Regions from separate parts of the Homo sapiens genome. Here regions 1, 3 and 4 are each linked to region 2. The links come from fine-mapping of genetic effects on gene expression. A gene starts in region 2. Each other region holds a variant in brackets. All regions are shown on one strand. Distances are between the middles of the regions. Region 1 overlaps HNRNPU (heterogeneous nuclear ribonucleoprotein U). Region 2 holds the start of COX20 (cytochrome c oxidase assembly factor COX20). Region 3 has its middle 29 kb from the start of COX20. Region 4 holds the start of HNRNPU (heterogeneous nuclear ribonucleoprotein U).

What was found. PIP is the estimated chance that this variant, and not a neighbour inherited with it, causes the effect.
Region 1: its variant is fine-mapped to the expression of COX20 in whole blood (INTERVAL, PIP 0.93).
Region 3: its variant is fine-mapped to the expression of COX20 in B cells (Fairfax 2012, PIP 0.95).
Region 4: its variant is fine-mapped to the expression of COX20 in monocytes (TOPMed, PIP above 0.99). The same link has a PIP of 0.9 or more in T cells.

What each region holds. Positions count from the first base shown.
Region 1 is chr1:244,854,934-244,860,080 of GRCh38, forward strand. It overlaps HNRNPU (heterogeneous nuclear ribonucleoprotein U), which reads right to left. Exons shown (of 14, transcript NM_031844.3): 5 at 4,342-4,441; 6 at 3,796-3,908; 7 at 3,078-3,341; 8 at 2,665-2,784; 9 at 1,795-1,923; 10 at 1,524-1,692; 11 at 971-1,225; 12 at 491-675; 13 at 40-111. Among named protein-coding and RNA genes, the nearest start is that of SNORA100, 3.3 kb to the left of the region's middle. The variant G/A (reference allele first, on the strand shown) is at 2,132.
Region 2 is chr1:244,832,508-244,837,654 of GRCh38, forward strand. COX20 (cytochrome c oxidase assembly factor COX20) reads left to right here and starts at 3,151. Exons shown (of 4, transcript NM_198076.6): 1 at 3,151-3,249. The coding sequence starts at 3,208. RefSeq lists enhancers at 1,062-1,821, 2,325-2,384, 2,925-3,044 and silencers at 2,545-2,884, 3,125-3,174, 3,215-3,504.
Region 3 is chr1:244,804,551-244,809,697 of GRCh38, forward strand. No RefSeq gene overlaps it. Among named protein-coding and RNA genes, the nearest start is that of COX20, 29 kb to the right of the region's middle. RefSeq lists an enhancer at 4,570-5,070. The variant G/A (reference allele first, on the strand shown) is at 3,014.
Region 4 is chr1:244,862,471-244,867,591 of GRCh38, forward strand. HNRNPU (heterogeneous nuclear ribonucleoprotein U) reads right to left here and starts at 2,073. Exons shown (of 14, transcript NM_031844.3): 1 at 1,147-2,073; 2 at 149-260; 3 at 1-64. The coding sequence starts at 1,837. LOC124904588 (UPF0764 protein C16orf89-like) reads right to left here. Exons shown (of 4, transcript XM_047439568.1): 3 at 2,193-2,261; 4 at 2,012-2,116. The coding sequence ends at 2,012. RefSeq lists silencers at 463-1,142, 2,123-2,222 and enhancers at 1,447-2,278, 2,279-3,109, 2,443-2,502. The variant T/G (reference allele first, on the strand shown) is at 2,245.

The sequences.
Region 1 (5,147 bases), 22 kb after region 2:
TACAATTAATGTACATAAAGCACATAAGAAATTACTTACACCCTGCTGCCACTGGTTGTAGCCCTGAGATTGATTTTTGTAGCCACGATTGTTTCCTCGTCCTCTGAAGTTCTACAAAAAGGAAATACTCTCTAAGAGCTCTGAGCCCAATTGCTTGTTAGGTTTGTGGGGGTGAGAGAGAGGAGCAGAAATGGACAGGTTGCTAGCCCCTAATCTTAGGTAGCAAGCAATACACAAATTCTGGATACCCTCTGCTGGTTTCTTATGTTTTAATTTTTTATTCATTATGAGAAATGCATCTGACTTGTTTAGTACACCTGAAAAAACTCAAAAGTAAGTAGACTCATTTCACCATTACTAGTTCAATTTTCCTTATGTCAATGCCTATCATGTTCCTTACGGATTACTAAGACACCCCAACATAAAGCTCACACCTTTCCAGACTAAGCTACAGTTATCAATCATGCTTCCAGGGATCTTGAATCATTACCTGGTTGTAGTTCCCTCTGTTGGGCATTCCACCTCTGTTGTAGTTCCCTCTGTTTGAGTAACTACCACGGCCAGGAAAAACAGGGGCACGAGGGTATGGATAGCCGATTCCACCACTTCCTCCACCGCCACCACCTCTCTGTGGCATGTTGCCCCTCCTATTATATCCGCCACGATTCCCAGGGGCTAAAAGACAAGAGCTGTTTTAGTTTCATTGTATATTGTACCCTACTTATACAGAAGACTTAGGATTCCTCTAGATTGTTCCTTTTTCTCCAAAAATAATTGTTTAAAGACAAAAGAAATGTTTAATTCTAACCATTAACATAACCTAGGTGTATTTAATATCAAATCACATGAATACTTTAGTTACTGTGACAGTATACCATTAATGAGGAAGAAACTTCAGCTACATCCAAACTATAAAATTATCACTTGTTTCGATCCTGAACTAAATACAGAACACTCAAAATTAACTTGCCTCCTCCTCTGAAATTTCCACCACGCATATTGAATCCTCCACGTCCTCTATGGCCACCACCTCTGTTAAACTGGTTCTTGCCACTCTTATTTTTATTGCTTTTCTTTGAGCCAGTGTTCTGTTTCTTTTCTGGTGGAAGAGCCTTTTTGCTTTCTTCCTTATATTGCTCCAAGAGTTTTTGGGCTTCTTCCTTCTGAAGTTCAACATAGGTTATTTCATCAAAGCACTCAGCTACCTCTGGGAGGGTAAAGTTTCCTGCAGGAAACAAAGTCATATTATTAATTTAGAAACCCACCACGAATCCTCACAATCCTAAAGCTGACAATTCTTGAGGTTTAGTAACATATTTTCCTAAAAATAAAAACAGACCAAACATATATGCATATGTAACAACTGCAATTTTAATTCCTGAAGCAGTATTGCTGGAAAAAATGTTAACTTTCAGGAGGCCTAAGTCCTAATAGATTTAACATAGTTACACAAGCAGAATATGTAGGAAAAACATTCTTTTAAAAAGAAGATTTCACACAGTAACAGAATTAAAATTCCATGCCTTTCATTTTGAGGACCGCATGTTCTGGTAGGTCTTTCCCCTCTACTTCTGCTTTCTTCTGTGTTCTTTGCTTATAGTCTTCATCTTTTGGGCAAACTACAACAGCTTTTCGCTGGAAGCCTGCAAACAGGCACATTTTTCTCCTCTGGGCAGCAGCAGACACATTTGTCTTTAAAAAAAGAAATTTATGTTTACAACCCTAAACATTAATTCTACACCAATCTATCTAAATTATCAGTTAATATTTTTCAATTTCAAAGCTACAGCGTACCTGATCCAGAATAAAATTTCGCTTCTTTCGGGCAGCAATCTCAATAAATTTCCCAAGACACTGGGGGGCTCTCTGCAACAGTGTGTTCAGTTTTCCAGTATCTGCCATTTGCTTCTTAAAACCTGCCACCTATATTCAAAAGTTAAAATTTCCCCTTGAACTTGTGAATTTTAATAAGTTATGCTTTTTAAAATTCAACTCATATCTATATGTAAAGCAGGCAACATTTTATAATTTAAATATTACCTTTGTCCATTATTGCTACAAAAACAGGGTCACTTAAACTATGTAACAAGACCTTACACTTACTCAATTCTTTTTAGCTGCTAGATGTTAA[G/A]AGCTCAAAAACACTACGGAAAAAAACAGAAGCCTAGCCAGTGGAAGGCAGTTTACCCTCAGAGTTGAAAGAACCAACTTAATCTTGCCTTTCCTCCCATCTCTTTAAGATACTAACAAAATGGATAGAGACAAAGACAAAAAGTTTACCTAGAATACCTCCCGGTCTATAATTTTTCTTTTCTTTTTTTTTTTTTTCTGAGACGGAGTGTTGCTCTGTCGCCCAGACTGGAGTACAATGGCACGATCTCAACTCACTGCAACCTCTGCCTCCCAGGTTCAAGTAATTGTCCCTGCCTCAACCTCCCGAGCAGCTGGGATTACAGGAACCCACTACCACACCCAGCTAATTTTTAAATTTTTAGTAGGAACGGGGCTTCGCCATGTTGGCCAGGTGGGTCTCAAACTCCTGACCTCAGGTGATCCATCCACCTCAGCCTCTCAAAATGCTGAGATTACAGGCGTGAACCACCATGCCCAGCCTCTCCCAGTCTATTTTAAACACTGAGATCAGGCCCTAAACATTTTACTTACCATCATCTTATCCATAATAGTATTTGTGCCAAGAATGTTATATTTCCCTGGATTTTCTGCTGCATGTTTAGTAACCCAGGTAGTTTTTCCAGCTCCTGGCAAGCCAATCATCATCACAACCTAGTGAAAAGAAAAGAAATGTCATTTCACTGTCAGTAGACACCACCTAATAATTCTTTAAATATTGTTAAGGCCAATTTAAATATCTAAGTTTTCATAGCCCTTACACTAACGGACAAAAATTTGTTTATGGAAAGATTAACAGTCAACATAAGGGGGAAACAATTACTTAAGAGCAATATGCACAGCACAAAGTAAATGAAACAGACTAATCATCTAGTTCTTCTAAATGTCATTTTGTGCCAGGCAAGCAATATTCAAATGCCACAGTTAAAAAAAAAAAAATCCCTTACTTCACAATCTTTCTTCTCTTCAGGCCCCTTTGGTCCTCTAACTCGATCCTCTAAGGGGACGTTCTGGATGAAAGTATACTCTTCAGGTATTGGAAAATATGGCTTTTCCTTCTGACCAAAATTAAATTCAACTGCACAGTTGTGGCAGAGAACATGCGGGAACAGTGGCCGTCCAGCAAGAACTTCCTTACTGATTTTGAAGGCAACGCCAAGATCTTGTCCATTCTTAGCATACGAGAGTTCTACTTCATCACTTTCAAAGTTCTGTTACACAGAAAAAAATTCAACAGTTAAAATCTGCTTCCTTAAACTTTCTAAAAAACTAAGAATTAAAATTAGGAGCAAAGCTTATCCTGTGGAAGCTACAGGTTAAAGAACTATTAGGTGGCCTTTAAGGGCTACACAGTTAAGAAATCTGATGGTTGTAAACCATGAAGCACGTATCTCCAGAACCAGAAACAATACTGACCTAGAAGCTAGACTGAATTTTCTAGGTCAATTTCATGTTCACTGTTTTCAGTCAAAATGAATTAGTGAGTTCCTCAAAAATGTCCTGTGTTTTCCCAATTCAACTGCTGAATGAAGTCTTTACACTAATCCAGGGACTGGTGTATTTTGTTGCTCATATTGAAAACTGACCTCAGTAAAGCTTCTTTAAAGTTCCTAGATATAGCTACTAACTTTGCCATTTATACATAGAAAGTTAGCTTTAACTTACAGCAAAACATGTAATCACATCATTTTCATCAAACTTTTCTCCATAATCTTCAGTCTCACAGTTGCATGTTTTTATTCCTTTTAGAGAATACCCATAAGAAAATTCTTCTTCACCTAAGAAAATAATTAATCTTCATGAAGTAGATGTTTAAAATAGTCCAAAGACTCATCTATTTTACTACTTAAGATGTAGGCTACAAGAGAAATAAGCATATAACCTAATCACCTGTCACTGACACTATTACTTTTCTATCTCTGTACCAGAATTGATGGAAGTTAGGAGGGATATATACGCAGAGACCAAATTAGTTGACGATTTGCATATCACGGGTAAGATTTTATTTCAACCATTGGTCATAAACTTCTAATAAAGGAACAAAAACTAAAATGTAGCCTGTGCCTACTATGTGCTAATATTACCTGTCTGAAGTATTAACAGAATAGATAAAAACAGACAAAAGGCTTAGAATGCCCTCTAGTTAAAAAACACTGAAATCAGACCCTCCTGAACATTCATGAGCCCACATCAGTCAAAAAGAAGCTTTACCAAGTAACATTCCACTTGTAGTTAGTGACCAGCCAATACGAACTTCATGTATGTCAATATCTTTTGTATATAAATGCCTTACTGGGATCTTCTCTGTAACCTGAAAGTCAAATCATTAAATAATTAAAATAATACACCAAGGAGGTAACCCCTTAACTCTCGCATATTTCATTGCGCCACGGGCTAATCTTCCTCTAGCTATAAATACAAAGAAGGCACACTCTAGCCCACCCCCAATATTTGTAAGAACTTTAAACTGATGTGCTTATAACTTGAAATTTAAAGAGTTAAATACTTATTTGACCCATATTTAAAAGAATACTTAATATTTTTAAAGTTCATGTTGTCAGTCTTTAACTTAAAGCCAATTAAAGGATACAATTAATGTTTTTCTCACCAACAAAAGCAGTAATGTAACCAAATTTTATTTTTAACTCTTTGGTGGCCCTTTCAAATGCTTGATAAAAATGAAGTACCCTAAATAAAAAATCGCCTAGCTCTGCATGGCAAGTTCTAACATAACAACCGTGATTAACTGTCACAACAAAATGAAGGTTCCAAGCTCCTCTTTTAATTTACAGGAAGCTTCAAAAATAAGTACCTTTGATAACTTAGCAGTATGAAGCACCTGTAATTCCAGCATTCTGAGAGGCTCAGGCGGGCAGATCACTTGAGCTTAGGAGTTCAAGACCAGCCTGGGCAACATGGTGAGACCTTGTCACTATTTTAAAAAGGAAAAAAAAAGGCTGGGCACAGTGGCTCATGCCTGTAATCCCAGCACTTTGGGACGCCGAGACAGTGGATCA
Region 2 (5,147 bases):
CAGATATATGGCAAAAAGTAAATTACTGAATGCAAATGATGTGGTACAGTGTCATTTCAGCGTGTATCACATACAGATACATGTATACATAAGCGTGGAGGCAAGTGTGACATAGAGCCTTTCATTATTTACCCCATATATTCCAGTGTTGTTTTAATTAAGACAAAATATAGGTATTCGTGGGATAATTTTTTTTTGTTTTTGAGACGAAGTTTCGCTCTTGCTGCCCAGGCTGGAGTGCAATGGCACGATCTCGGCTCACCACAACCTCCACCTCTTGGGTTCAAGCGATTCTCCTGCCTCAGCCTCCCAAGATGGGATTACAGGTGTGTGCCACCATGCCCAGCTAATTTTTGTATTTTTAGTAGAGACAGGGTTTTGCCATGCTGGCCAGGCTGGTCTTGAACTCCTGACCTCAGCTGATCCACCCACCTCGGCCTCCCAAAGTGCTAGGATTACCGGCATGAGCCACCGTGCCCGGCCTCGTGTAATAATATTTAATTAAGAAAAAGCCGGGTGCCATAGCTCATGTCTGTAATCCCAGCACTTTGGGAGGGTGAGACAGGAGGATCACTTTAGTCCAGGAGTTTGAGACCAGCCTGGGCAACAAAGTGACACACCATCCCCCACCTCCCGTCTCTACAAATAATTGTTTTTAAGAAGGATAAAGAAGAGTTTGAAAAGAGAGACATCAAACTGTTAGTTATATTTACCTTAAAAAGGAGAGAAAGAACTGAGATTTTTACTTTCCTTTCTATAACTGTTAAACAATTAAAAATGGAAATATTATATGCAATTTTGTGAAAATAAAAATTTTAAAATAGGCCAGGCGCAGTGGCTCACGCCTGTAATCCCAGCACTCTGGAAACCAGAGGCAGGCGTATCACCTGAGGTCAGGAGTTTGAGGCCAGCCTGGCCAACATAGTGAAACCCTTTCTCTACTAAAAATACAAAAATTAGCCGGGTGTGGTGGCAGGCGCCTGTAATCCCAGCTGCTACTCAGGAAGCTGAGGCAGGAGAATCACTTGAACCCGGGAGGCAGAGGTTGCAGTGAGCTGAGATTGCGCCACTGCACTCCAGCCTGAGCGACAAAGTGAGACTCTGTCTCAAAAAAAATAAAAAATAAAAAATAAATCATCCTTATGAAAATACTTTTCAAAGACAAATGAAATAGACCCCAACAATGTCTACTCTAGCAAATTTTCAAAGTCATAATAAAAATAAAATAGGATGACTCGGTGGTGTTTTAGCTGGTACTTTTCCAGTTTTCCTTTTACAACATAATCAACAATGACTTCAAAAGGATTTCCCCCTCCTTCATGGAATATTACTACCTTCAACACGGCCTTTCAGATCCGGAGTTCAAAGCATAGTTAGCATTATAATTTCAGCAGAGAATCCAGAATTGGCAGGATATCACCAGTAGGGTGACTTTTTTTCTTTTCCCTAGCAAACAGTAGAGCAGTATGTAGTTTCTCCCCCCGCCCAGACGGAGTTTCGCTCTTTCTCCCAGGCTGGAGTACAGTGGCACGATCTCGGCTCCCTGCAACCTCCGCCTTCCGTTTTCAAGCTATTCTCCTTCCTCAGGCTGCCGAGTAGCTGGGATTACAGGCGCCCCCCACCACGCCAGGCTAATTTTTGTATTTTTAGTAGAGGCGAGGTTTCACCAAGTTGACCAGGCTGGTCCCGAACTCCTGACCTCGTGATCCGCCCGCCTCAGCCCCCAAAGTGTTGGGATTACAGGCGTGAGCCTCCGCGCCCGGCACAGTATGTAGTTTCTAACTACAATTTCAAAAACAAAAACAAAAAAACCCCCCCCGCCCCCGCAAAAAAAAACCTCAAAAAAAAAAATGTGACACATAAATACACAACCTTAACTGTGTATTTTACTGGGATTGTAGAAAGGTATCAAATGGGCATGCAAGTAAGGTCCTTACGGAGTAAGAAAACGCCCAATGAACAGTACTTAATATGAATTCGACATCGTTAACACTGAGCGCTTGCTGTGTGCCAGCGCGCAGCATAATTCGAAGCAGCATGACTTTGCACAATGACATATTCTACAAGTCCAGTTTCCTAAGGAGTGCCCTTAGGTTACATATAACCTAAACGTGAAATGTAGAAGTACATAAAGGAGGCATAAAGTTAAAGGGGAAAAATTATAAATACTAGAAAAAATTGCATTGTATTATTTTGATGGCTGAAAAATGGGCTCGACCCTGCATGCACGCGTTCTCCATTGAGCTCGACAATATGCAGTATTTTGTTTCACGTTATGTCGCAGTCTTAGGGAGGAGTGAAACGTGGAACACGACTTCACATCAAAAATGCACGTTGCAGAGGCATTTTTCCTTCGGGGACGCCGGAAGACTTCGCCACACGCGCGCCCTCTCCGCGGACACCAACGTGCTGACGCATGTTCATTAGCGAGCTGCTCCCTCCATTTTGTCCCCAGTCTCCTTTAGGCGAACTGCGCGGTTCTATGTTAAAGCCACTTAGTAATGAAACTATAAAAGGGAGGAAGTGGGGTGGGCGTGGGAGCCCCGTTTGCGCAAGGCAGGCGCGGGGGACTAAATGGCTGCTGGTGCAGAGTGGGGCTGCCCCGGCACCAAGGGCTCGTCCCGTGGCCGGAAGGACAAAGGACACTTAGGGGACGAGGGCCGCCGAGCCAGCGCGGAGCGCCTTCCGGGTCGGTGGGCTGGGGCGGGCTGGGGGCTGGGGCCGGGCCGACCCCCGCGGTGGGGCCCACCCCGCAGGACAAAGCAGCGGCCCCGCCCCTCGGCGCGCGCCCGAGGCTCGTGCGTGTGAGCACGCGCGCCGGAGACGGTTAGAAATGGCGGTTGGGGCGGAGCAGGGGGCTGGCGCGGGAAGCGGGGCTGTCTGGCTCGGTTACGCCCCCACCTCGCCAGGAATCTAGGAGTCGGTTTGTTTTCCGAACCCATCTCCTTCCGCTCTCCCGCCCCTGCAGGCTGTGTGCCGAGCTTGGAAGAAAGTGTGACCCGTTCGACGGAACAAAGGACATGACAGCCCGGCCCCGTGCGGCCACTGCGGAGCGTTAGGAACATTCCCTAAAATGGCGGCCGGCGCGTCGGAACAGGGCGGGAGGCGGCGGCGCGTGGGGGCGGGACGGGGAGGGGCGCGGCCAGCCGGGCTTCTGCTTCCGCGACCCCGGCGGTGCAGGGCGGGTGGAGTCGCGGAGTAGTCCTCATGGCCGCCCCGCCGGAGCCCGGTGAGCCCGAGGAGAGGAAGGTAACCTGGGGGTCGGCGGGGCGCGCGCCGCGGGTGGGCGGTGGGTAAGGACGTTCTCCGCGGAGCTCCTAGGCCCGGAGCACGTGTCACTGGCTTCTCTGCCACCCATGGGCTTGAAACTATTTTAACTGTTCCTAGTCCTTATCCCAAGCCTCCAACATTTTAATCTAAGTGGCCGGGACAAAATTGACCAAAACTAGGGGGAGGAGGGGACCAGTAGTACTAATGACTTACTACAGGTCATTATGAAATAAGCTAACAATACTGAATCTTTGGCGAGAAAATTTTGCTGCTAAGGGCACTGCACTGTAATTTGTTAGTAAAGGCTAATAGTAGAGATTAAAGCTCCGTTGAGGACAGGTGCCTTGTCTTTAACACGTTGTATTCATCACATTTAACATAGGAGTAATTGCTGAGGGATGACTTGATTGTACTACGATGAGATGAAGGGTTAAGATTTCTTCCCCATCACCAGTAGCCTCCCTAGCTGGTGTCCCTGTCTCCATACTCTCCTGAATCCACCTTCCACTATTGTCCGCTGGCCCTTTCCAGCCTGTAAACTGGACAGTTTTCATTCCTCTGCCTAACATCCAGTCGTAGCAGCCCATCCTATCTCTTTAAGGATAAAACCCAAATTCTTGGTATAGTAAAGCTAAACCAAGCGCTCTCCCTGGAAGGGCTCCTGTGTTTCACCAAAGCTGACTTACGTACTTTCCCCATCTTCCCAGGCATCTTGTACGTCGTTACATTTATCATATTGGAAGGTAATAAATGATCTTGTTTTCCTCTTTTCCTGGGCTCCTTATTAAGAGCAGGGAACCTAATTTATATCCTCAGGGCAGAACAGGTATTCAGAAAAGAATAATGCAAGAGGAAAAAAGTTTAATATAAACTAGGGAGATCGTAACATTGGCTAATCACGAGCAAATATTTATAGAAGACCCACTGTGTGCTAAATGGCTCCTAATATATACTTAAGATATTCTCCCAGCTTGGAAATTCTGCTCACTTCTTGCTCTTGCTTGCTTCTCTGGTGGGCTTCCATCCAAATTTGGCCATGACATCAGATCATATGGTTAATATTAACAAATATTGTATAAATTGTTTTCATACTTAATATCCAACAGGTTGTCAGTTTACGTACTACTGGTGCCTTATCTGTTTTTACTGTCCCATACACTGCCCATCTGGAATAAGCTTAGTGTTTAAAAAAAAAAAAAGATCTTTGCATACACACAGTAAATCCTAGATTCAGTTTTGTGATAAACACTGGAATCCTGAATGGGACTTTTGGTAGGAGATAACTGCTGTTTTTAAAGGTCATAAAGGTGGTTTAATCCATTGGAAATTAAAAAAAAAAAACTTAAAAGAGGATCAACATTGACCTATTTAACTGGCCCATCAGTAAGTAGCAAAACAATACTGTAGTTGTTGAAATGAAGATAGTTATAAGCCTCAAACCGAGCACAGTCAGAGGTGGGAGGCCAAAAAAACAAAAATTGCTCATGAAACAGTAGTACCTATCAGAGCCCATCAAAAAGCTAATTAAATTAATAGAAGCTATGATGAATTAACAGCCCAAGGTGCTGTCAGAAAGGAAGCCTGCGGTTATTTTTTTTAAAAGAATTTGTCAGTGATCATTCCAGCACAACCCAGGGAGGATTATTTTATTATAAGAATTAGCAAACCTAAAGTAAAAATGGGAGTTACCAAGCTGGCATACCTTGATAGAACTAGCCCCTAAAAACTGTCCTCTGCCACATTCTTGTCCTTTAAGAAACTTTAAAATGTGAAATTTGGTACATACAGGTAAATTCACATTCAGGTAAATTCTTAATTCACCCATTCAAAAAATATTTAGAGTACCTACTGAGTATTAGACACTGAACGAGGTACTA
Region 3 (5,147 bases), 28 kb before region 2:
ACGTGGTGGCTCACGCCTGTAATCCCAACACTTTGGGAGGCCAAGGTGGGCAGATCACTTGAGGTCAGGAGTTCAAGACCAACCTGGCCAACACAGCGAAACCCCATCTCTACCAAAAATACAAAAATTAGCCGGGCATAGTTGGTGCTCGCCTGTAATCCCAGTGACTCGGGAGGCTGAGGCAGGAGAACTGCTTGAACCCAGGAGGTGGAGGTTGCAGTGAGACAAGATCGTGCCGCTGCACTCCAGCCTGGGCAACAGGGCGAGACTCCATCTCCAAACAAAACAAAACAAAATTATGAAGAGACTACGCTTAGATTAGGGACTGGGATTTAACACAGGTTCAATCTTCCTAGAGTACATCTTTAATAAAGTATACACAGGGAACAGTGCCCAAATCATAAGTGTACAGCTAGATGACCTTTTACAAAGTGAGCACGCATCTGCGATCAACACCCACAGAAAGAACATTCCCGGCGCCCAGCACTGTGGCCCTCCCGTTCACTGACCCCGCCTTCCAACTTCTGGGGCATAGATTTTTGTTTTTGAATTTCGGACTTGTTTTTGTTTTTGTTTTTTCAGGTTTTCTTTGTTTTGTTTTGTTTTGTTTTCCTGAGACAGAGTCTCATTCTGTCACCCAGGCTGGAGTGCAATGGTGTAATCTTGGCTCACTGCAACCTCTGCCTCCCAGATTCAAGCGATTCTCCTGCCTCCTGGGCAGAGGTAGAAAAAAAGTTTCAAAAATCATGAATTCATATTAATATTCAAATTAGGACATTTACAATCTAGGCACTAAGGATAGGCATTGCTAGTAGGTGTCATTGCTTTTTTTTTTTTTCTTAAGATGAAGTCTCACTCTGTCGCCCAGGCTGGAGTGCAATGGCGCAATCTCGGCTCACTGCAACCTCCTGGCCTCCCAGGATCAAGCGATTCTCCTGCCTCAGCCTCCCAAGTAGCTGGGATGACAGGCGCCCGCCACCATGCCCGGCTAATTTTTGTGTTTTTAGTAGAGTTGGGGTTTCACCATGTTAGCCAGGCTGGTCTCCAACTCCTAACCTCAAGGGATCCGCCTGCCACAACCTCCCAAAGTGCTGGGATTACAGGCGTAAGCCACCTCGCCCGGCCTGTTTTTTAACTTTGGATAAATGGTAACCTACAGTGTACACATTTTTCTGTCTCCTTTCTTTTCATTCAACCTTCTATTTCTGAGATTCACCCAAGTTGTCCCATTAAGTTCTAGACTTAAATATTATATGTGTTGTAGGGTTATTATGGACAAATAACACAGCAGAATGGAAAAGAACATGAAAGTGAGACCCCTGCAACCCATTAATGTGTGTTTCATTTAATGACGGTAACTCTACCGAAAAAGAACAAGAAGCGATGACACCTGGCCGGGCGCGGTGGCTCACACCTGTAATCTCAGCACTTTGGGAGGTTAAGGCGAGCAGATCACTTGAGGTCAGGAGTTCAAGACCAGCCTGGCCAACATGGTGAAACTCCATCTCTACCAAAAAATACGAAAATTAGCCGGGAGTGGTGGAGGGCAGCTGTAATCCCAGCTACTCGGGAGGCAGAGGCAAGAGAATCTCTTGAACCCGGGAGGCCAGGAGTTTGCAGTGAGCTGAGATTGCGCCACAGCACTCCAGCCTGGGTGACAGAGTGAGACTCCATCTCGAGAAAAAAAAAAAAGCAATGACACCTACTAGCAATGACTATTCTTAGTGCCTAGATTGTAAATATCCTAATTTGAATATAAATATGAATTCATGATTTTTGAAACTTTTTTCTACCTCTGCCCACTGAAAGAGCCTAGACGAAATGGCTCTCAGTAGCAGTGAGCTCTCCTGGGGCCTGGTTCTTGGGTTCCAAATACTATATCCACTAGGAGAGGCCGGGTGTGGTGGCTCACGCCTGTAATCCCAGCACTGCAGGAGGCTGAGGTGGGCAGATCACGAAGTCAGGAGTTTGAGACCAACCTGGCCAACATGGTGAAACCCCGTCTCTACTAAAGATACAAAAAATTGGCGAGGCATGGTGGTGCAGGCCTGTAATCCCAGCTACTTGGGAGACTGAGGCAGGAGAATCACTTGAATGCGGGAGGCGGAGGTTGCAGTGAGCCGAGATCACACTCCAGCCTGGGTGACCGGGTGAGACTCCATCTCAAAAAAAAAAAAAAAAGGAAAAAAGAAAAGAAAATGTACAAGATGTTCCAGGGATAGCCTTTGTGTCAGAAAGTAAGAGAGCTTGGGTCCATAAGGAGCCACTGGGGGGAAACAACAAGTTTTTAAAATTTAAATAAATAGAAAAAAAAAGGAAGGAAGGAAACTATTAAAGACCTCTTGAATCTTATCAAAGAAGGAAGGAAACTATTAAAGACCTCTTGAGTCTTATCAAAGATACAGGAACTAATTGGATGAAGTAAAAAATGGAATAATTTCAGCATCAAAAAGAATAATCACTATAATGGATGGAAAACAACAAAATTATAAAATTTATATAAAATATACATAAAAATTTATATTAAATTTATATACAATGTAATGATATATCATTATATCAAGTCCTCTCCACCCCCATGAAAAATCCCTCATTGTTGTCTTTGGAGGTTGCTGAGGGACCAACACATTATGCTGAAAATTGGCAAATGAAAGGAGTGAGTCAAGCATTTATCCTGTGTCTTCCTATATACTCTGCATCTTTCTTTGTTTTCTTTTCTTTTCTTTCTAAGTTCTTTTCTTTCTTTCTTCTTTCTTTTTCTTTCTTTCTTCTTTTTCTTTCTCTCCCTTGCTTGCTCCCCTTCCTTCCTTCCTCCCTTCCTTCCTTCTTTCTCTCTTTTTCTTTCTTTCCTCTTTTTAGAGAGATGGGGTCTTATTATGTTGCCCAGGCTGGTCTCAAGCTCCTGGCTTCAAGTGATTCTCCCACCTCAGCCTCCAAAACACTGGGATTACAGGCATGAGCCACATGCCCAGGAGTCTGTGTTTCAAAGTAACCAAAGAGTTAATGAAGGAAA[G/A]GTCTTTATTTTTATTTACTTATTTTTTTTGAGACGGAGTCTCACTTTGTTGCCCAGGCTGGAGTGCAATGGCGCGATCTTGGCTCACTGGAACCTCTGCCTCCCGGGTTCACGCGATTCTCCTGCCTCAGCTTCCCGAGTAGCTGGGATTACAGGCATGCACCGCCATGCCCAGCTAATTTTGTATTTTTAGTACAGACGAGATTTCTCCATGTTGGTCAGGCTGATCTTGAACTCCTGACCTCAGGTGATCTACCCGCCTCAGCCTCCCAAAGTGCTGGGGTTACAGGCATGAGCCACCATGCCCAGCCAGGAAAGTTCTTTTTAAATGAAAATCCAGTTAGTAAATCCAGAAGTAATGGTAGCAACTAATGAAATAATGTATTTAGGCAACAATCATCAACAGCTACTAAAACATCAGGCAAAAGGTTATAGAGAAACTGTAATGGGGGATCAGACTGACACCACCTCAACCCACTGACCAGTTTTTGAGAGTGAGGAACAGGAAGTAGATGGCACCTCTATGACATGTGCTCACCAACAAAATTAGATCTGAATGGAATCAAGCTTCTAGCGCTGCCTACCAGTTTATGGGAAATATGGACAATAGAGGAAAAACACAATGACACAACAGAAATCAGTCAGCTGAATCCGACGTAGGGAAATTCTACAGGCATGACCTGGTTTCTTCAAAAATAAATGACATGGGGCAAGGCATGGTGGCTCACGCCTGTAATCTCAGCACTTTGGGAGGCGAGGTGGGCGAATCACCTGAGGTCAGGAGTTCGAGACCAGTCTAGCCAACATGGTGAAACCCCATCTCTACTAAAAATACAAAAATTAGCCAGGCGTGATGGGCACCTGTAATTCCAGCTACTCAGGAGGCTGAGGCAGGAGAATCACTTGAACCCGGGAGATGGAGGTTGCAGTGAGCCGAGATTGTGCCACTGCTCTCCAGCCTGGACAACAGAGCAAGACTCTGTCTCAAAAATAAATAAATAAATAAATGACATTGGGGAATGGCAGGTAAGAGGAGTGATTAAAATAGGCTTAAAAGGCTGGGTGCAGTGGCTCGCACCTGTAATCCCAGCACTTTGGGAGGCTGAGGTGGGTGGATCACCTGAGGTCAGGAGTTGGAGACCAGCCTGGCCAACATGGTAAAACCCCATCTCTACTAAAAATACAAAAATCAGCCGGGTATGGTAGCACATGCCTATAATCCCAGCTACTCAGGAGGCTGAGGAAGGAGAATCACTTGAACCCAGGAGGCAGAGGTTGCAGTGAGCCGAGATCGTGCCACTGCACTCCAACCTGGGCAACAGAGACTTCATCTCAAATTAAAATAAAATAAAATAGGCTTAAAAGAGGCTGCAACCAAAGCCACTTTGTGGCACTTATCTGGGTCCTAATTTGAATGAAGCAATTATAAAAAGACATTTTAGAGATGTACAGGGAAATGTGAACATATTGGTAATTTTATTAGATATAATAATAACATCGAAGTTATTTCTCTCTCTCTCTCTTTTTTTTTTTGAGACAGAGCCTTGCTCTTGTTGCCCAGGCTGGAGTGCAATGGCATGATCTCTGCTCACTGCAACCTCTGCCTGCTGGGTTCAAGCGATTCTCCTGCCTCAGCCTCCTGAGTAGCTGGGATTACAGGTGCACACCACCACGCCCGGCTAATTTTTTTTTTTTTTTTTTTTTTTGAGACGGAGTCTCGGTCTGTCGCCCCAGCTGGAGTGCAGTGGCGCGATCTCGGCTCACTGCAAGCTCCTCCTCCCAGGTTCACACCATTCTCCTGCCTCAGCCTCCCGAGTAGCTAGGACTACAGGCGCCAGCTACCACGCCTGTCTAATTTTCTGTATTTTTAGTAAAGACGGGGTTTCACCTTGTTAGCCAGGATGGTCTCGATCTCCTGACCTCATGATCCGGCTGCCTCGGCCTCCCAAAGTGCTGGGATTACAGACGTGAGCCACCGCACCCGGCCTCATTTTTGTATTTTTAGTAGAGACGGGGTTTCACCATGTTGGTCAGGCTGGTCTCGAACTCCTGACCTCATCCACCCGCCTTGGCCTCCCAAAGTGCTGGGATTACAGGCGTCAGCCACCACGCCTGGCCTCTCTCTCTCTTTTTA
Region 4 (5,121 bases), 30 kb after region 2:
ACAAACCACTGTGTCATCGAAGTGTTCATCTTCTTCTTCAACAGGTGGCTGAGGAGATTTGGCTCTGAAAGACAGAATTGTCTCCTGATACAGCTTTCCGATCAACGAACGAATAAGGGATGAGTAAAACTAGGTGAGCATCCTATACCTGCTATACTTGTTCTCTTCAATGTACTCAAAATATCCACGGCCATGATCTTCTCGTGGTCTTTTAACACCCCTCTTTTTATCTCCGCCTTTCTGTTCTGTTTTGCCGTCCCCTAAAACACACACGAGCCCCATAAAGGCCAAGCCTCTAAACAACAAAAAAACGCTTTTCCGTTCCGAGAACCAAAGCAGCTCGACTTTATCCTGCTTTTTAACTGAGGTTTTAACCGAGGACTCAAATGTGAATTCAAAGAACAATCAACTACGAATTCGATTGGCGCTAGTGACGCAGTCTAAAGACATTACTAATTTTGCCAGTCTCCTCGATGATTCGAGAAAGCCAAAGAAAAACTGCGCGGCCCAGGCCCGAAGCCCACGTGTATCCCGAAGAGAGCGCAGAGAGGGGGAGGGGCCGAGCCCGGCGCGGCGGCGCTCCCCTCCCCCGCGGGCCCGCGCTCCCCGCGGCCGCATTGTACTGATCTTCCGCCCCCCGCCCCGCCCCGCCCGGCTCCTCCCGCCGGAAGTGACGTCACGCCGAGCCCCTGCGCTCCTTGCACAATACAGCGGCGAGGAGCCGCCAAAGCGCGCCCGCCCCGGGACCTGGGGCCTCTCCCCTCCCCCCGAGACATGTGCCCGCACCGCGCGCACGCAGCGCGACGGCGCCACCGCGGGCCGACCGGGCTCCCTCCCGCCGCCCGCCCGCGGCTCCTCCCCCTACAGCGGCAGCTGCAGCTCCCCCCGGCTCTCGAGCCACATAATGGAGGCGCTGCCACCGCCGACACACACACACACACACACACACACGCGCGCGCGCACACACACGCCCCGAGCCCGAGGCCTCTCGGCTAATCTGGGATTCCCCGCGCCCCCTCCCCCACCCTCACCGCGGCGCCCTCCCGCCCGGGGCTCCCTCCCCCTGCGGGGCTCCGGCAGGCCTGGGGCACGGTCCCCACCCCGCGCGGGCCTCCCGCCGCGCGCAACGTACAACGCAGCACTCACCCGCCGCCGGAGCCCCGGGGCGACCGCCGCCTCCGCCGCCTTCCGCCTTCTTCTTACCTCCCGCCTGCTGCTGGCCCTGCCTCGCCCCGGGCGGCGCCACCGTCACCGCGAACAGCGAGGTGGGGCCGCTGCTCTTCCCCGCGGCCTCCTTGGCGGCCCCGCGCTGCTGTTGGGGCTGTTGCTGCTGCGTCGCCGGCGGTTGAGGCTGCTGCTCCCCGTGCCCGTTCTCGTCGCCCGCGCCTTCCTCTTCGTCCCCGAGCTCATCTTCCCCTTCCTGGAAACCCTGATCGTCGCCGTTCTCGTCTTCCGAGGCGGCCTCCTCCTCCTCCATCGGGCCCGAGTCGGCCGCCCCCGCGGCCCCGTTCTCCTCTCCTAGCTCCATCTGGTCGCCGTCCAGAGCGGAGATTCCTTCCTCCTCCTCTTCCTCTTCCTCCTCCTCTTCATCGCCGCCGGCCGCGGCCTCCTGCTCGAGGCCTGCTCCCGAGCGCCCAGCGGAATCCCCGCCCAGGTCTAGGCTGCCGTTCCCGGGCTCCATGGCGGGGCGGCCCCCGGCCTCCTCGTCGTCCAGCGCAGCCTGGAGTCGCTCCATGAGCTCGGCCTTGAGACCCTTGTCAGAAAGGCGTCGCTTCTTGAGCTCCTCTTTCAGCTCCGACACCTTCAGCTTTTTTACATTAACAGGCGAGGAACTCATGGTGAGGGCCCCGATTCACCGCTAGGCGCTGCCTCAAACTCGGCTCCGCTCACTCGGCCACTGGTGGCGGCTGCTGCGGCTGCTCCTCGGCCCGGGCGGCGGCTGCGGCTGCGGCTGGAGATGGGTTCGTGCTGCAGAGCGGATCCGCCTGGTGTCGAACGGCGCCAATTCCTTTCACCGAGTTCGCGAGGGAGACGCGGAGACTCGCCTGGCGCGAGCGAGCACGCAACGTCCTCTCGCAGGAGCGGCGCCGCGCACGTAATATAGGCGCCCCGCCCCCTGCGCTGACGGGAGCACTGCGCAGGAGGAAAGCCGGAGCGCGCCCGCGCTCGGCCCCGCCCATTACCGTACTTACCTCCCCGCCCCCACGCCGAACCCGGGCCGAGAGCGCGGTGGAGGCCGCGCAG[T/G]GCGCTTCCAATTGGGACTGAGCAAATGGAGGAAAAGGAAACCGCCTTTCAGTTCAACCGACTCACTGCATGATATATTGGCCTTTCTGGGTCTTTGGTGGCTATACTCGTTTGGCTTTTCTCCTTCCCAGCTTGGAGGCTGCTTTATCCAAATGCTTTCTTCAGTCCTCAACTTGGCGTTTCAACCCGAATCCGCCTTTTCTTCCATCTTAGATCTGCCTTCTTATGTGTTTCTCCAGCTCTTCGTTTAAAACTCCTTCAAATCGTATTTCAGTTTTGACTGGTATAGCATACATTGGCAACTGTTACACGCAGCGGCTCTTTTCCTCATAATACCGTATTTGGTTTAATTTGTGTAAGTCCTGCCTTGCGAATTGGATTTTAAGTTCGAGAAGGGCAAGGGCAGAACCGTTCTTTTGTCTGTTCCACACCCCGGGTGCGGGGCCTGGGAAGTAGAGGCTTTGCTTACTACTCCATACTGCAAACCTTAGTGTACCTGCCTTTGCAGGGCAGCTATTCTCATGCTCTTAATAACCCTGAATAAACCTCAGAATTGCATTTCCAAGTTTTCTGTAGCTACCACAAAGACGGACCTCCAGTAACACTTGTTCTGTCCACTTTAGGACCTGGTCATCAGCTACGAAGTCCCAGTAGCTAACCGTGAGGGTGAGACCCAACTAGGTCTTTGATTATAGGCCCACTTGATTCTCTTCCTATTCCTGTAGAAATACTCTTGACCAAATTATTCTGAAACTTAAAGTTTACGAAAAATCAAGGGCTGTGATTTTGTAAAAAGAAAAATGGACTATCGCTCTTGAAATCCGTTATTTTATATGTTAGAAGTTTACTTTTTCTCTTTAAAGAAAAGATGTGATGTCTCGAAGTTTTAGATAGGGAAGTCAGAATTTAGATTCGTGATAGAAGTTAACATTTTAAACCCTAGATAATCTGCAGTGTCCAGCCAGTGTTCCATCTGACTAAGGAGATGGTTTATACCCACTGTTTGGTGCTCTAGGTGGCACAATAATATTGCCCCATTATTAATTTGAAATTTGGAAGTAAACACATTGAAATTTCTCCCATAGGCTAATATGATTTAACTAATTGATACATTTTATTTTTGAAGTTTATTTTCGGTAGCTTTTATGAAGCATTCTACCATACCTTGCAGTCATGTATACGTGAAATATTAACACTTGTGAAATGATTTGACTTGAAATTAATGGACTATGTACAGTACTACTGATAATCCCCAGTTCAAGTTAAGTGGTGAGGATAGCCCCCAAAATAGAAACTTCCAAACAGTGCCAGAAACTCATTTTAGCCTTTGGTTATAATTTTGAAGGTTATGAATAAGCCACAAACTGGAATTTGAAATTTTGTCTTCGTTCAGAAATGGGAAGAGAGCTACAGGGGGTTTACATGTTCACAAACTAGATAACTAATCCCTTAATGAATCAGAGTTAAATACAATTATGATGGTTCCTTAAATTTATGTGTCCTAGATATTATTTACACCTTTAAATATTAGTTATATGAAAACAAATTTCATTTACTGGAAAACACTAAACTATGAAAACAAAGATTGTATATCTACATATAGTAGATCTGTAACAGTCACTCTTGGAACATTAAGTCAGTTGCAAAAATAAACATGAAATACAACTTTTGATGCTCACAAGAAAGTTCTATGGCTTTATCTCCAAAAGTTTTGGAGAACTTTAGAGCTGGATGGGGCCTGGAGATCGATCTGCAGTCCTGTTCATTTTACTGCCCAGGAAGCTGGGACCCTCACCCCCCACACCAATGGGCTTTCTATTACATTGTGCTGTCTTAGACAACATTTGAAAGAAAAACAATTTCTGCTCAAAGAACCATCATCATACTATCCTTTTCACAAACAGAGGAAATATGCCATTCCATAGTCTTATGTTACCACTTCAAAGTACAAATGGTGACATCTTATTGATCATTTTTGCTTCTTATATTTTTAATGCTATCATGATAGTCCTGCTCTACAGAGACCTGTTAAAGTGCAGGTCACTTCCTGTAAATCTCTGAAGGACCTCTAAGACAATTTAAATTCCCCCTGTGTCAAATCCTAGAGGCTACCAAGAATACCGCGTGCCGGAGGAGACAAGTTAATTCTCAATAACAAAAAATGATTCAAGAATGACCTATGAATAATTGATCTGTGAGAGGTAACTACAAAGTTTTGGTGCTCTGCATGTCTAGCTTACATTTTTGAGGTTTAAGCAAAGGAAATGCTATACTTTGTCACACAATTTATTCAGCAAATATTTTTTCAATACTTTCTCAAAAACATTTTATAGTCATAACGATGAGGCAGTTCCAGAGATCTACAGTTAACAAAGTATCCTGCACTTAAAAATTTGCTGGCCAGGCCCAGCGGCTCATGTCTGTAATCCCAGCACTTCGAGAGGCCGAGATGGGAAGATGGCTTGAGGCCAGGAGTTCGAAACCAGCCTGAGGAACACAGTGAGACTCCATCTCCACAAAAAATTAAAATTAGGTGGCTGTGGTGGTACGCCTGTAGTCCGAGCTACTCAAGGGGCTGAGGTAGCAGGATCACTTGACCCCCGGCAGTCAAGGCTGCAGTGAGCCGTGATTGTACCACTGCACTCTAACCTGGACCACAGAGGGAGACCCTGTCTCAAAAAAAAAAAAAAAGAAAAAAGAAAGAAAAAGAAAAAAACCCGTTAAGATCTTACGTTAAATATTCTCATTCCCCCCCGCCCCCCAAAAAAAACAAAACAAAACAAAAAACAAGATCGGGAGTGGTGGCTCACACCTGTAATCCCAGCACTTTGGGAGGCTGAGGTGGGCAGATCACCTGAGGTCAGGAGTTCGAGACCA